Linked DNA regions of Homo sapiens. The protein of the gene in region 1 purifies or fractionates together with the protein of each later gene. This does not show direct contact. Each region holds a gene or a part of one and is shown on either strand. Other genes may lie near its edges.

Region 1 (9,312 bases):
AGCATTAATACTTGTTGAAAATGTATCAGAAATAAAGGGCACTGCTTGTTAGTTCAGAAACATAAAAGGAGATATTTACAAATACTTCAGAAAAAAATGTACATTGTTTTGCTCTATCCTTTTGCAGAACATGGCAGTGGGGAGGGGACAGAGAAAGATCTAGTATGGACCATTAGTGTTTGACTAGATGAACGAAATTAACAAGTGTTTCTTGGTAGAACAAAGAAGGTGCTTTCACTTACTTGACATTAGGGCATTCGTCGCAGACCACCTCCTGGGTCATTTGGAAGCGCCCAGGGCCCAGCTGGGTGGTCCGCATCTCTTGCCGACAATTGCACTTCCGTTTGCCAGGAGCCTGCCTTGCCACAGGTTTGTTTCTAACTACCTAGGAAGTGCATAAACAACATCAGCTTCTCTCTTGTGTAAAACAGCCTTTCCTTTCCTCAATTGATCAAGGCTCTGCACATATGCCTGGACTGAAACTTCCCCTTCTCTGGCAATCTATCCCTCAGAGATCTAAAGCTGACAAAACTCTTTGAAGAGTACAAATCAGCCCCCAAACAGGAATGAAGCAAACACATACTTAAATGACTCAAATTCTAAAGCTGGAGAAGTAGAGACGGGAGTAAGAAACAAGAGAACCGAAAAATAAAGTGTATGATATCAGCATTTCTAAGCCACAACTAAATGCTACTGAGTTAAAGTACTTCATGTAATGATTATCTTTTAGGAAATCCGAGCTGTGTAAAGCATAACCCCTGAGGAACAATCACTACCTTCAAAACCTGGTATGTGGCTACTATCCAATCCTCTGGTTAACCTACTGAAAATGTCTCCTTATTTCAGGAAATGCAATCCAGGACTATTTTCTGGAGCTATCTCCATTCAGATACTTTAACATGTAGGAAGAGAAACAATGACCATCTCTTTGTAGTTGACTGCAATCAAACATTCTGATCCCTCTAAGAATGTAAAATTGATATATATGCAGAAATGTATTCCTAGTTTTGCCTGTTTAAATAGTCAAACATCTAATCACAAGGTATGTGCTCACGCAGCAGAATGACGAATGCTTGGAGAAAAATCCTTTAAAGCCTACCAACATATGAAAGGCCCAGGTCAACAGAGTAAATTATAGCAACAATAACAGTAATCAGAGCAAACATTTTATAGCACTTACTACATGCCAAGCCATGTGCCAAACACTTTTACATATTCATTTAACCCTCACAACTCTATGAGACAGGTACTGTTATTATCCCCATTTTACAGGTGAGGTAACAGAAGTATAGAAAGGTTAAGTAACATGACCAAGGCCACATGACTAATACATGGCAGAGCCAGGATTCTAAACTAGGCAGTCTAGCTGCAAAGTCCATGCTCCTTAACCATTGTGCTATCCTATTTCTCAAGGTATTTTTTTTTCTTTAAAAAATAATTTACATACAGAAGGAGCAGGATTGAAAACAAGGAAAAAAAGAATTTAGCATGGGGTTACTGAACCAGCAAAGCCATTTACAGCCTTTACAATAGTTGGATTAAAAAAGAGTTTGTTCGGGAACACACTAACAGCAAAAAGTGATGTCTACTGTGTATTAGTGACAACTGCAGAACAGGCTTGGAAGGGAACATGGGCGCTAATTAGGCTCACCTCTTTCCTCCCATCTAAACAACCTCACTGGTTTATGAATATTTTTAATGCCCTTTTCTCCTGCAGCCTCAACAGTATTACAAGTCAGTTGCATCTTCTGTGATTGTCTATATCTCTTCTTTCAATTATTCAGAGAAGCAGCTACAACTAAGAAGAATACGCTTCTTGTCAAGATGGCACATATGCACAGGCTACCGGCTGTCTCCTCCAGTATCCTGGAAAAACTACAAGAAAACATGGATTCCAGGAAACAGTAACTACAGCACAGAATATATGAGAAAATCCCACAGATAGAGGGCTGTTTTGAACTGTTTCCCATGACTGCAGAAAACAAAAGACTCCAGACAGCAAACAAAACAAAAAACACCCCAAGACACCAAACAAAACACAGTTAAAACCAGTGGGCCAGGGCTCAGCCCATGATGCTCTGCAGGGAAAGGTAGTTGCTGGTACCTGTAAGGGAATATCAGCTCAAAGGCCAAGACAGCTAGATACCTGAGAAGGTCTATCATCTGCCCCACAAAAGACAACAAACTGAATAACACATATATTTTAAGCAACTGTACTTTGCTTAAAAAAAGATTAGACAGACCAGGAACTTAAAACAAGCATGATAATACTTAAGGAGGGAAGGCATTAGTAAAATGATATAGAGTAAGAAATAATGCAAGAATCAAGTAGAAATATTATGCATAAAAATATGAGTTGAAATTAAAACACAGCAGATGGGTTATTATTAGAATGGATATAGCTGAAGACTGAAGTAGTAAGCTGGGAGATCAAAATGAGGTACCTCCCAGAAGGAAGCAGTGAAGGATAAAGAAAATTTATTTTTTGTATTTAAAAGAAAGTTAAGAGCAGACAGAAGTAGGAGTGATAGAATTGTAAAAAATAATGAGACATATTTTCCAGAATTTAAAAAAGATGAATAACCTCATATTAAAAGATCCCAGAGTTTTAGCAGAAAATATAGGTGAACAGCTTTCTTATTTTATTTTAAAATTTTTTTCCAGAGATGAGTTTCAGTTATGTTGTCCAGGCTAGAGTGCAGTGGCTATTCACAGATGCAATCACAGGACATGATAGCCTCAAACTCCTGGCCTCAAGCAATCCTCCTACCTCAGCCTCCTGAGTAGCTGAGATTACAAGTGTGCTCCACTGCACATGGCTGCTTTCTTATTTTAGAACAAAAACGAATTTCTTTAAAAAGACACAAAAACTAACCATTAAAGACTGATAGATTTAATTACATTAATTAGTTCTGTTTGCTGAAAATTGAAATAAATCTTAAACATAATGAAAAGACAAGTTACAAACAGATAGCCTATATCTGCATTACATACAGCCAACAAAGAATTAGCAGCAAGAGTGAAGTACTCTTAGAAATCAATAAGCAAGAGGCAAAAGAAAGAACAGGCATTTCACAAGAGAGGAAACAAATATGGCCAATAAACACAGGAAGAGATGCTGATCCTAATTGGTAATTTAAAAAATGTAAAACAAGACCATAATGAGATATTTTATACCCATTTGATGAGCAAAAATTAAGAAGTCTAATAATTCCAAGTATTAGTGAGGCAGTGAATCTATAGGATCTCATAAATTGCATGTAGAAGCATCAGTACAATCAATTTCAAAAGCAATACAGTATTAACTTGTAAAAATGAACATTGGTTCATATTACCCAGCAATTCTACTCTCAAGCATATCCACCCAAGAGATATTCTTGTTCATCTGAACCTGGAAATATGGATTAAAATGTTCATAAAAGCGCTGTTTGGAATTGAATAAAACTGGAAGAAACAAAAATGCCTATTAATAAATTATGGTCACAATATAGCAATAAGCAACAAGGGTGAATCCTAGTAACATAATAGTGAGTGAAAATAACCAGTCCCAGAAAATAATGAATAAAATACCATTTCTAAAAAATCAAAAACAATATAATAAACAATATATTATTCAGGTATTCATATATACATGATAAAGTAAGAATGGCAAAAGAACAATAAAGACATAACTCAATACAGTAGTTACCTTTGAAGGGAGGCAGGGTAATGGAACAGGGAAGTAGCATGTAGGTAGATTAAGTCATGGTAATGTTTTACTTAGTTCTTAAGCTGGGTGATAAAACAATGACATCAGTGTATCATGAACCAAGCATTATAATTAATTCAATTTTGTGCATTTGATCACTCTCTCTTACCCTCAAAAAGACAGAGAAGGTACATATAAACCTCTTATTTTTAGTCAAAAGTGCAAGTTCTGGGAGTCAATATGAACAGCTATATTGTTTGAACTTACTTCCACAAAATTTCCTGCATATACTTCTTCCAAAGTGACTTCTAGATCTACAATAATATCACTTCCTCTTGGAATATTTCTGTCTTGCTGACGAGGGGTTCCTCCAAACATGAAACCAAAATCCCCAAAGAAGCTAAAGATAAGTGCAAAATCATCAGGAAAAAAAAAAAAATCAAGACTCTATGTTTCACAATTAACTCATTTTCTTTACGTTGATAAACTATTGTTTCTATCAATGCATTGTGCAAAACTACAAGGTATTTTTTAATACAATGGAGTCAACTATCATACATAATTTTAAATTTATATACTATCAACCATGTTGTAACTATACGGTCCCTTACTACAAAAAAATCCACTTTTTAACAAAATATAGCCCATACATATAGTACAGTACATACACACACAGTATGCCAATGAATTCAATGTTGGACCCAACCAATGAAATAATAATCTTTCAATATTGGGAAAAATCTGAATATGGTGGACTTATTGAGAAAGAGTATAGTATACATAAACTTGTGTAATGCTAAATGTAATGGTTAATTTAAGAAATTTTTATCGGTAATTTTAACATATGTAGTGTTCTCTTTACATGCTTTTTAGAAGCTAACTTGTTGAAAGAAGCTACTGCTCTACACAAAAATCTTGAGTATGTAATTAAATAAGCTAAAAAAGCATCAGCCTTAGTAAAATCCTAGTGCTTAAGGAGAAGGAAGTTCTAGCCTCTATAAGACCCAAACTAATTTTTGTAAGTAACAAGAGTAACTTGAGATTAACAAAAAAGGTGACCTTCAATCCTACAGGTGGTTTAATCTAATGTTAATTTTTGGTGTTATTAAGAAGCCTTGTATATTAGCATAGCGAAGATGATAACTATATAACTCCCTCTCCCACCAACCAACTCAGGTGAATGAATTCCCTGAATCTTAAATAAAGGCAAGGGGAAAGAACAGGGTGGGGGCTGGGGAAGCTGTTTCTCTTTCTGGTATTCCCTAGGGATCACTTCAGCCAGCCAAATTGATCCTGGCGGGGGGAAAAGATGTCCTAATCATGTTACTCACACATCTTTACAGACCCTAAAAATCTACTCCCCCACCCCAGGCCCCTCAACCAAGCACTAAATGGTGGTAACTACTATATGCAACAGTGATTCTTACTTCTTTTGGGGAAGGGTTCACAGAACCCTTTGAGAATCTGAAGAAAACAATGAACTCTCCCCATAAAAATGCAGATTCGAACATCTTTTTGTTTATAATTTCAGACCTGAAACCCCAGATTAAAGTCTCTTAGTATATGTAATCATCAGGGAATGTGGAAATTCAAATGCTCAATAAAGAGAGGTTCAAAGAGTGAGGAAGAAAGTGTTTATTATTCCAACCACCCAGCACTCCCAGAAAGCAAGAGATAAAGGTCCTCTACCCTAATTCCTTCCCCTAATGCTGGTTATTATAATCACCCTCACTTGTTGATAGCACGAAAGAGAGGCAGCTCTGGGTATGGGAGCAGGAATTTTTCTATCTCTGCTAACAATAATTTTGCTCATTAAGTGGTTTGCAGATTGCAAGGTAGCAAGTAGGCAAGGATGAACTGATTTCCAACACATGTCCCCGTGAATTGTCTGCACTGATTTAACTGATATGGTTGGCTAGATGGAATGTCCTTTCAGTGCCATCAGTCTTTCCTGAAGCTTTGTGAAAATAGAAGACTATCTTCCCACAGGGAGGACAATAATTGATCTTTGGATCAGCTAAATTGTACTGTTCATCAAAAGTTTCTGAACTAGGGAATGAGAATAATTCTTTAATCGCTAAGTGACCCTCTCTCAGACACTAACACTTTGCAGATGGGTAAATTACTCACTGTGAAAAAATGTCTCCATGGGAGCTCTGATGACCATCTTTTAATCCTTCTTCACCATAAGTATCGTACTGTTTCCGTTTCTCACTATCTGACAGAACCTGGGGATAAAAGCCAGTGGAGGAAAAGATCATGAGTTGGTAATATCCAGTTAAGGCACAGTCATATTTATGTTTGTTTTTACTTTGACAGTGGGTCTAAAATTTTAATAGAATGCAGTTTCCATTATGTACTGTATTAAGGCATATTTACAAAGTTATTTTCTCTAAGACTAAATTCTTTGATGCACTGTTCATTCCACATTGCTCCATTCATGTTTTTAATTTAAAGTTCTCAAAACTCGTGTAGTCACTAAAAAATAATACCTGAGATTAGCAATGCAGCTGTGAAGGTCAGGGTGGTGACAGGAAAGAGTTAAGACGGATTCCTCAGGTTTACTTCCCATGCAGTTTGACTTTGGTGCTTATGCTGTTAACCACTATACTGCCTTCAGAACAACTTGGCCCCACAGGTCTATAACACCCCCTACCCAAAACACACACACACAGACACACACACACACACACACACACGCGCGCGCGCGCGCATGTATTAGGAGATTGTCAAGTCAAGGAAATCAAATGACAGGCCCTCCAGAGAGGCCTACACTGATATCTTTTCATCCTCCTTTTTTCATTTTTTGGTATATGCAGAAATCCATTTGTGGAAGAATTTTGCCTGCCATATATATATATGTTTAAGTTTGTAATGTCCTGAGTTTGAAATGCAGAAAGAGTAGTAAGTAAAAATACTCTATGAAGGTTATTCAAGGTCAATTTCATTGCTTGAAATAATTCTTGAAGTTTTAAGTTTCAGAGAACTACATACACAATCATGACTATATGCTTTCTCTCTGTATATTAAAGAATGTAACAACAAAATAAGCTTCCATCCTTTTCAAAATTTGCCTTCAACATGCAAAAAAAAACTTTCTCTTTTATTTAGAGCAATCTGATATATATGCACATATATACTTGTGAAAATTAAATGGCTTTAAAATCTTCCTTTGATATTTATAAACTCCTACTTAGACAAGAGTCTGAAGGAGAGAGTTATTTCAAAACCACACTCATGGTGGCCCAGAAAAAGAGAGGTTCAAAGTAGACGGGGCTTGTTGACTTAAAAGAAAGGCATATTCACACAGGACACATTTTTGGCTTAGGGCCCAAATGAGGTGTAAGGAGTCATGGCAAAAATGTATTAACATTTAAGATATCCTTGAAAGGATAAATAGAAATTGAGTATACAAGAGAGTGAACATTCTTAAAAGCAAAGGCAAATGGGTTATTCCAGAAGTGACCACAGTACTTGATTACAGCCACTATGAAAGAAAAAGGGAGAGGAAAGCATGTTTTCACAAGTATCTTTAGAAAATAGGTACTTTGGGGAAGCAGAAATGGGCACAATTAACTTGAAAAAAAAAAAAACCCTTATTATTAACTGGATCTCCAATATTTTCACTTTTAGTCTACTTCTCTGATCTGATCTTCACAAATAAATGAACCCTGCATTTGAGACTATAAAAAACACCATTTCAAAACCCCCAAAGACTAGTTTTAAGTCAGTTTCTTTTTAGACATCAGAGGCTTCTGTAATAACCCCCTAAAAACTACTCTTGAAGTCATTATCATTTACTTCCTCCTCACTTTTCTTCCATCAAGGAATGCAATTTTATTCTATGGTCTTGGAAACTATTTTAAAAGAAAAAAGGTTTTTAGTTGATTGGCCAACCAATACACAGATTCTCAAGTAATTAAAATGCCAGCAGTGATCCTAGCTCTGTAGAGAAAACAAATTTGTATTCACAAAAGATTCTTCATAACTGTACTCGGATTCTAATTTGTGAACACTAATTTACCTAAGACTAAAGGCAATCAAGCTTGAATGATAAAAAGAAAACAGAAATTTGAACTAGTGGCTAAAAGGATTGTTATAGTTAAATAAGCCACGATTTCATGACTGACCTTTGTATAGCCTGCCTAGGTCATTGATAAAGAACGTGAAGATTCTTTAGAGAGCATGGTAAATTCAGCTTCCCTAGAAAATGTTTTTGAGTATTAGGTTCCTAGCAAACAAGGGGACTATTCATGGAAAATACAGTGCAAAATATAGAATGCATATTATCAACAAGAAACAAAATATTACATATAATTTAGGATGGGCCATTAACCTTCCCAAGTTTATTGATGTGCCTCAGGTTAAGAATTTCTGTCCCTTGGCCAGGCACGGTGGCTCATGCCTGTAATCCCAGCACTTTGGGAAGCCGAGGCGGGTGGATCATGAGGTCAGGAGATCGAGACCATCCTGGGTAACACAGTGAAACCCTGTCTCTACTAAAAATACAAAAAATTAGCTGGGCATGGTGGTGCACAGCTGTAGTCCCAGCTACTCAGGAGGCTGAGGCAGGAGAATGGCGTAAAACCCAGGAGGCGGAGCTTGCAGTGAGCCGAGATCGTGCCACTCTACTCCAGCTTGGCAGACAGAGCGAGACTCTGTCTCAAAAAAAAATAAAAAAGAATTTCTGCCCCATAGGATCCCTGAAGGTGTTGAAAGATGAAAGGACCCCAACAGCTCTTGGGTTCACCTGGGTATAACTCACTGTTTCAATTCCATTGCTTCTTTAATCTAGAGATCTTGGGATTCCTTCCTTTCAAGGTTTGTGTCTTCCTAAAATATTTTTCAATTTGTTTTTAGCCTTCTCAATATACAAGAATTTAAACTTAAATTCAGGAGTTTTAGCTCTATGACTTTTAGTTCAATTAATTTTTTTCTGTGTCCATTTAGAAAATGAGAATAAAAATATGCCTAGCTCTAATATATTTCCTGGTGTCCTAGTGAAGATTAAATGAGATGATACACATGAGAGTGTTTTGATCCCCAGATTAGAGGTTGCAAAATCAAATTAAAACTGTGCTCTGTTTGATTTATGTAAAAAAGAAATTTAACTGAATTAGTTACCAACACTTTTACAAGCAGAACTCATATAAAAAATCTAGATTTTCAACTTTTCTTGAAAAATTAAATCATCCAGGAACATACTGTTTGCATTTGTATGACAAAAACTGGCTGGGGTTGAGTAACAGCTGCTCCCTTGAAATGGGGCCAGAAGGCTTCAGTTTGTCAAAGTCCTCAACAATCCTTATTGCTTCCCAATATGGAGGCAGAATATCTGCTGCCATGTTTTAACTTATACCTGCCCTGCATGTTATTTGTCTAGTTCATATGAACATGCAGGTTTGCAACTCTCATGAAGGCTTTCTTTTTATTTTTGGTTCTAGCTCCCAAACTGATTGAACGACAGACCAATCAGTTGATCTACTTATTAATCTATAATAAGTTCAAGACTAGCCTGGCCAACAGGGTGAAACCCTGTCTCTACTAAAAATACAAAAATTAGCCAGGTGTGGTGGCATGCACCTGTAATCCCAGCTACTTGGGAGGCTGAGGCGGGAGAACTG
Region 2 (6,373 bases), on another chromosome or scaffold:
ATATCAGGGGTACATACTATCTTTATGATTTATGACTGTTGATGTGGACCTTGATTACCTGGCTGAAGTAGTGTTTGTTCGTTAGGTTTCTCCTGTAAAGTTATTCTTTTCATTTTCCCCCTTTCCATGCACTTTTTGGAAGAAAGTCACTATGTGCATTTCACTCTTACAGACTGGAGAGTTATACTCTGTCTACATTAGGGTGGAATATCTACATATTTTATTTGGGATTTTTCCATATTGGGGATTTGTCTCTTTTCCCCAATTTATTTATTTATTCAGTTATTTACATTAGTATAAACTTATGGATAGTTTATACTTCGTTATAATCTAATGCTACTATATTTTGTTGCTCAAATTGTTCCAACTTTGGCCATTGGGAATTCTTTCAGCTGGCTTTGTGTCCATTGGCAGTATCCCATTGTGTTTTTGTGTATATGTGCCTGCACTTTAAAGCACTTCTTTCCTTTCTGGCACCAAAAGATGCTCCAGGCTCATCTTGTTTATTTCTTGCTCCAGTACTAGAATCAGCTGTTTCTCCAAGGAGCTCTGCTTCCTTTTATTGGAGAATGATATTAAAACCAAGTTCTAGGCCTTATGTAAGCTTGTTGCTACTGGAGTGTTTCTTTTAGGCCCTCTCACTTGACAGAATAAATAACTGTAAGCCAGGCGCAGTGGCTCACACCTATAATCCCGGCACTTTGTGAGGCAGAGGTGGGTGGATCACAAGGTCAGGAGTTCGAGACCAGCCTGGCTAACATGGTGAAACCCCGTATCTACTAAAGTACAAAAATTAGCTGGGCATGGTGGCGGGAGCCTGTGATCCCAGCTACTTGGGAGGCCGAGGTAGGAGAATCGTTTGAACCTGGGAGGCGGAGGTTGCAGTGAGCCGAGATTGCACCATTGCATTCCAGCCTGGGTGACAGGGCGAGACTCTGTCTCAAAAAAAAATTAAAAAAATAAAGAATTGTTACCTGTGTGTGCTTACTCGTGTATATATTACATATCTATAAATTTTTATTTGCATAGCCATCTGTATCTACATATATTAAGTTAAATGAGCTTTCTTTTTCTTTTTCTTTTTTTTTTAAGATGGGTTCTTGCTGTGTTATTCAGGCTGGAGTGCAGTGGCTACTCACAGGTGTGATGATAGTGCACTAGAGCCTCGAACTCCTTGGCTCAAGCAGTCCTCTTGCGTCAGCCTTCCAAGTAGCTGGGGATACAGGCATGCCCCACTGTGCCTGGCTAGTGTTCTTATTGATGTCTTTAGCTGTAATCCATTACCACATAGATCGTCCTAGCCTCCTCCCTGTGCTAATTTGTAAATTCCCACTCCAACAGTAAGATACCTTGTTCCTACCATCTGCCATCCATGTATTGAACTTCAGTTCAGTTCCAGTATACAAATATAGCAGTATCAGAATTACATACTGGTACCCTCCTGGGAACAATTTTATCAAGTAGAGTGTACACACACACACACACACACACTTCTGAAATAATCAGTAATTTTTTAATTGCCATCGTATAGAAACTGAATATTTGGCCTTAAGGAAGATGGGATTTAGATGAGGAGTAGAATATAGAGAACTTGCTTTCTCTCTCACTGCCTTATTAGAAAGAAAGAAAAGAATGTAGAAAACTTGCTATGTTTTGCTCAGTTAATATTTGCTATCTCATTTAATTCTCACAGTTGCTCTGTAAGGTGATATTGTGATCATTTTATAGAGGAGAAAACAAAGGCTCAAAGGATTTACAGAAGAAGGGATCAAGTTGAGATTCAAGGTCAGCCTGACTCCCAGAGTCCATTCCCTTTTGAACTTGTCATCAGGTCATTTAAAATCTAGTTAAGAGAATGAAGCAGTAATATTTAAAGTCAAATAACAAGAGATATAAAGTATTTTAAGGGCAGAATGTGGTGGCTCATGCCTGTACTCCCAGCACTTTACTACGCTGAGGTAGGTGGATCACTTGAGGCTGGGAGTTTGAGACCAGCCTGGTCAACATGGTGAAACCCCCATCTCTATTAAAAAATACCAAAATTAGCTGGGTGTGGTAGCACATGCCTGTAATCCCAGCTATTCTGGAGGCTGAGGCATGAGAACCCAAGAGGTGGAGGTTGCAGAGAGCCGAGATTGTGCCATTGCACTCCAGCCTGGGCGACAGAGCGAGATGCTGTCTCAAAAAAGTAAAGTATTTTAAAGCCAGCACGGTGGCTCACACCTGTAATCCCAGCACCCTAAAAGACCAAGTGGGGAGAATCGTTTAAGTCCAGGAGTTAGAGGCCAGCCAAGGCAACACAGTTGCCTACCAAAAAACTTTTAATTACCTGGGTGTGGTGGTATATGCCTGTTGTCTTAGCTACTCAGGAGGTGAGGCCATAAGACCACTTGAGGCACTGCACTCCAGCCTGGGCAACAGAGCAAGATACCCTAACTGTTTTTTTTTTTTTTTTTTTTTTTTTTTTGAGACAAAGTCTCACTCTTGTCATCCAGGCTGGAGTCCAGTGGTGCAATCTCGGCTCACTGCAACCTTCGGCTCACGGCAACCTCCGCCTCCCAGGTTCAAGCGATTCTCCTGCTTCAGCCTCCCGAATAGCTGGGATTACAGGCGCCTGCCACCACACCTGGCTAATTTTTGTATTTTTAGTAGAGATGGGGTTTTACCATGTTGGCCAGGCTGGTCTTGAACTCCTGACCTCAGGCGATCTGCCCGCCTCGCCCTCCCAAATTACTGGGATTACAGGCATGAGCTACCGTACCTGGCCACAATCCCAACTCTTAAAAAGAAAAAAAAAAGAAATTCTGTTTTAACACTGTAATAGAAAATATAAGGCAATTATAGTATTAATTGCAAAATAAGTGTTTGGACCATAATCTTTTTTTTTTCCTTTCTTTTTGATGCCATGACTCAGATAAGAACCATGGACCATAATCTTATAGCAATGAATTTTTTTCCTCCTATGTCCTTTATGTCTTTCGTCTTTTTCCATGGTTCATGGTTTAAACAACACTGGAGTGGCCGGGCACGGTGGCTCATGCCTGTAATCCCAGCACTTTGGGAGGCTGAGGCGGGAGGATCACCTGAGGTTGGGAATTCGAAACCAGCCTGACCAACATGGAGAAACCCTGTCTCTACTAAAAATACAAAATTAGCCGGGCATGGTGGCACATGCCTGTAATCCCAGCTACTAGGGAGGCTGAGGCAGGAAAATCACTTGAACCTGGGAGGCGGAGGTTGTGGTGAGCCGAGATTGCGCCATTGCACTCCAGCCTGGGCAACAAGAGCGATACTCTGTCTCAAAATAAATAAATAAATAAATAAATAAAATAACAACACTGGAAAGCAGCTGAATTTTTTTTTTTTTTTTGAGATGGGGTCTTGCTCTGTAATCCAAGCTGGAGTGCAGTGGTATGATCACAGCTCATTGCAGCCTTGATCCCCTGGACTTAGGTGATAGCTGTAGTAGCTGGGTACCATAGGCATGTGCCACCATGCCCAGCTAATTTCTTTTTTTTTTTTCTTTTTTTTTTTTTGAGACAGAGTTTTGCTCTTGTTGCCCAGGCTGGAGTGCAATGGTGTGATCTCGGCTCACCGCAACCTCCGCCTCCCGGGTTCAAGCGATTCTCCTGCCTCAGCCTCCCGAGTAGCTGGGATTACAGGCATGTGCCACCACACCCAGCTAATTTTGTATTTTTAGTAGAGACAGGGTTTCTCCATGTCGGTCAGGCTGGTCTTGAACTCCTGACCTCAGCTAATTTCTTTTGTATTTTTTTTAGGGATAGCGTTTCACCATGTTGCCCAGGCTGGTCTCAAACTCTTGGGCTCAAGTGATCTGCCCTGCTCAGCTTCCCAAAGTGGTAGGATTACAGGCATAAGCCTGGCCCCTCTGATTTTTTACTTCAAGGTGGCCTTCTTTTTCTTCCCATTGCCTCCCACCCCTTTTCAAGCCCTTGTCAGCCATGCTGATGTTACTACCTTCTGTATTTTCTAGGAAGTGAGTGCTTTTGGTGAGGAAGGTGAAGGTGATTATCTGGATGACTGGACAGTGCTCTGTAATGGACCCTACTGGGTGAGAGATGGTGAGGTGCGGTTCAAACACTCTTCCACTGAGGTACTGCTGTCTGTCACAGGAGAACAATATGGTCGACCTATCAGTGGGCAAAAAGAGGTGCATGGCATGGCCCAGCCAAGTCAGAACAACTACTGGAAAGCCATGGAAGGCATCTTCATGAAGCCCAGTGAGTTGTTGAAGGCAGAAGCCCACCATGCAGAGCTGTGAATCTAGAGGCTCTGAGCCACTGTTAACGCACAATGTTCACAGACATCTGTTGCTGCCTCACCTTGGGATCCCTGCCACAAGTTCCTTGGGCAGTGGCCATGTCACCATTGAGATGAAGATATACAACAGAAAATAGTGGCTGTGTTTGGAAGCTTCAGCCCTGCACATTTGAACTAGTCACTCTCCCAGACTTGCGTGGGTCAGTTCTTTCTGAGTAGAGGACTTGCTGGTAAAGGGGCAGATGCTTTTTATTAGTACTGATAAAACAAACTGAGGGAAACATCCCTCTTAGCTGGGAAACTTTTACTCTTCAGGAGCTTGGCATCATGGACTGTTAATGTATGTGATTTTCCCCCTATTTTCTCTCTCCAAAATGATAAAAACAATAATTTTATTATGAGTCACTGTGTTGTTATTTATTAGGTGTGCTATTTCATTAGCTGCTTAATCCTTTGAGTCCTAAGACTCTTTGGAGACGCTATGAAGCTCCAATGTGGGCCCTTTTAAGAGCTTTTCTTGCATACAAACCTTTTCTCCCTCTACTTTGACTTCTCTCCAGGCATCTCATCTTTAATAGATCTTTGACTAATTATAGCTAAAAACTCTCAGAGAATACAGCATAATAAATAGCCAGTGAAATGTTTGCTTTGTATCTGTTACTGCAGATGAGAAAAAGGTGTAGGGGTAGAAAGAACGAACCAGTATTTATTCACTGCTAAATACTAGGTACCATATTATAGATCTTTTTTTTTATTTATTGTTTTTTAGACAGAGTCTCGGTCTGTCGCCCAGGCTGGAGTGCAGTGGCGCGATCTCGGCTCACTGCAAGTTCCACCTCCTGGGTTCACAACCATCCTCCTGCCTCAGCCTCCCAAGTAGCCGGTGCTACAGGCACCCGCCACCACGCCAGGGTAATTTTTTTGTATTTTTAGTAGAGACAGGGTTTCACTGTATTAACTAGGATGGTCTCGATCTCCTGACCTCATGATCCGCCCGCCTCAGCCTCCCAAAGTGCTGAGATTACAGGCGTGAGCCACCGCACCCGGCCTATAGATCTTACCTCATTTAATCTTCACAGAATTCATATAGGGTAATACTGCATTTTTATCAGTGCAGCAGTTGAGTAACTGCCTGAATTCTTTTTTTTTTTTTTTTTTGAGACAAGTTCTTTGCTCTGTCACCTAGGTGGGAGGGGCACAATCATGGCTTATTACAGCCTTGACCTCCTGGGCTCAAGTTGATCCTCCTGTGTCAGTTTTTGATTTATCGTAGAGATGAGGTCTCACTATGTTACCCAGGCTGGTCTGGAACTCCTGGGCTCAAGTGATCCTTATGCTGTGTCTTCCCAAAGTGCTGGGGATTACAGGAGTGAGCCACCATGCCTGGCCTACTGCCTGAATTCTTTTTTTTTTTTTTTTAAGATGGAGTCTCACTCTGTCGCCCAGACTGGAGTGCAGTGGTGCAATCTCGGCTCACTGCAACCTCCGCCTCCCAGGTTCAAGTGATTCCCCTGCCTCAGCCTCCTGAGTAGCTGGGACTACAGGCACCCGCCACCACACCTGACTAATTTTTGTATTTTTAGTAGAGATGGGGTTTCACCATATTGGCCAGGCTGGTCTTGAACTCCTGACCTTTTGTGATCCGCCCACCTTGGCCTCCCAAAGTGCTGGGAAAACAGGTGTGAGCCACCGTGCCCGGCCTGAATTCTTAAAACTAATAAATCATTTTGGAATAGGAATCCAGCTGTTTCTGACTCAGGTTTTTTTAAGTGCACTACGATTGTGTTTAGCTTTTGGAAAACAAATCCTGTTTTTTGGACAAACGTAGATATATCTCTCTAAAAAGGTGGATAGAAAACTACTTTTGTCCTCTGCCTACCTGATTTCCTCCTTTCCTGTGTCAATTGCAGAAAATTTGCTCCTGTAGCTTCCAATCATGGTATTGGTGAACGGAGATGGCTGCCATCTGCTGGAATTTCAGTGACTAGCAGGCTTTTTTTATTTTTAGAAACTTCCGGGTTTTGTTCTTTTTTTTTCTATTTGTTTTGTTAATGTTGAACATTTAGAGACACCATTTCTGTGCCAAACATGG

What was found. The genes of interacting proteins can lie anywhere in the genome.
Region 2: the proteins of DNAJB11 (region 1) and SDF2 purify together in Homo sapiens (affinity purification with mass spectrometry; 5 studies listed by BioGRID and IntAct, with this or other methods). This does not show direct contact.

The regions. Positions count from the first base shown.
Region 1 is NC_000003.12:186,572,444-186,581,755, reverse strand, and holds part of DNAJB11 (dnaJ homolog subfamily B member 11 isoform 1 precursor), read right to left. Parts: intron 5,917-9,312; coding exon 5,819-5,916; intron 4,089-5,818; coding exon 3,956-4,088; intron 3,772-3,955; exon of another isoform or gene 3,689-3,771; intron 386-3,688; coding exon 243-385; intron 1-242. UniProt on the Homo sapiens protein: As a co-chaperone for HSPA5 it is required for proper folding, trafficking or degradation of proteins.
Region 2 is NC_000017.11:28,646,898-28,653,270, reverse strand, and holds the end of SDF2 (stromal cell-derived factor 2 precursor), read left to right. Parts: intron 1-1,728; coding exon of another isoform or gene 1,729-1,785; intron 1,786-3,994; coding exon 3,995-4,282; 3' UTR 4,283-4,925; downstream 4,926-6,373.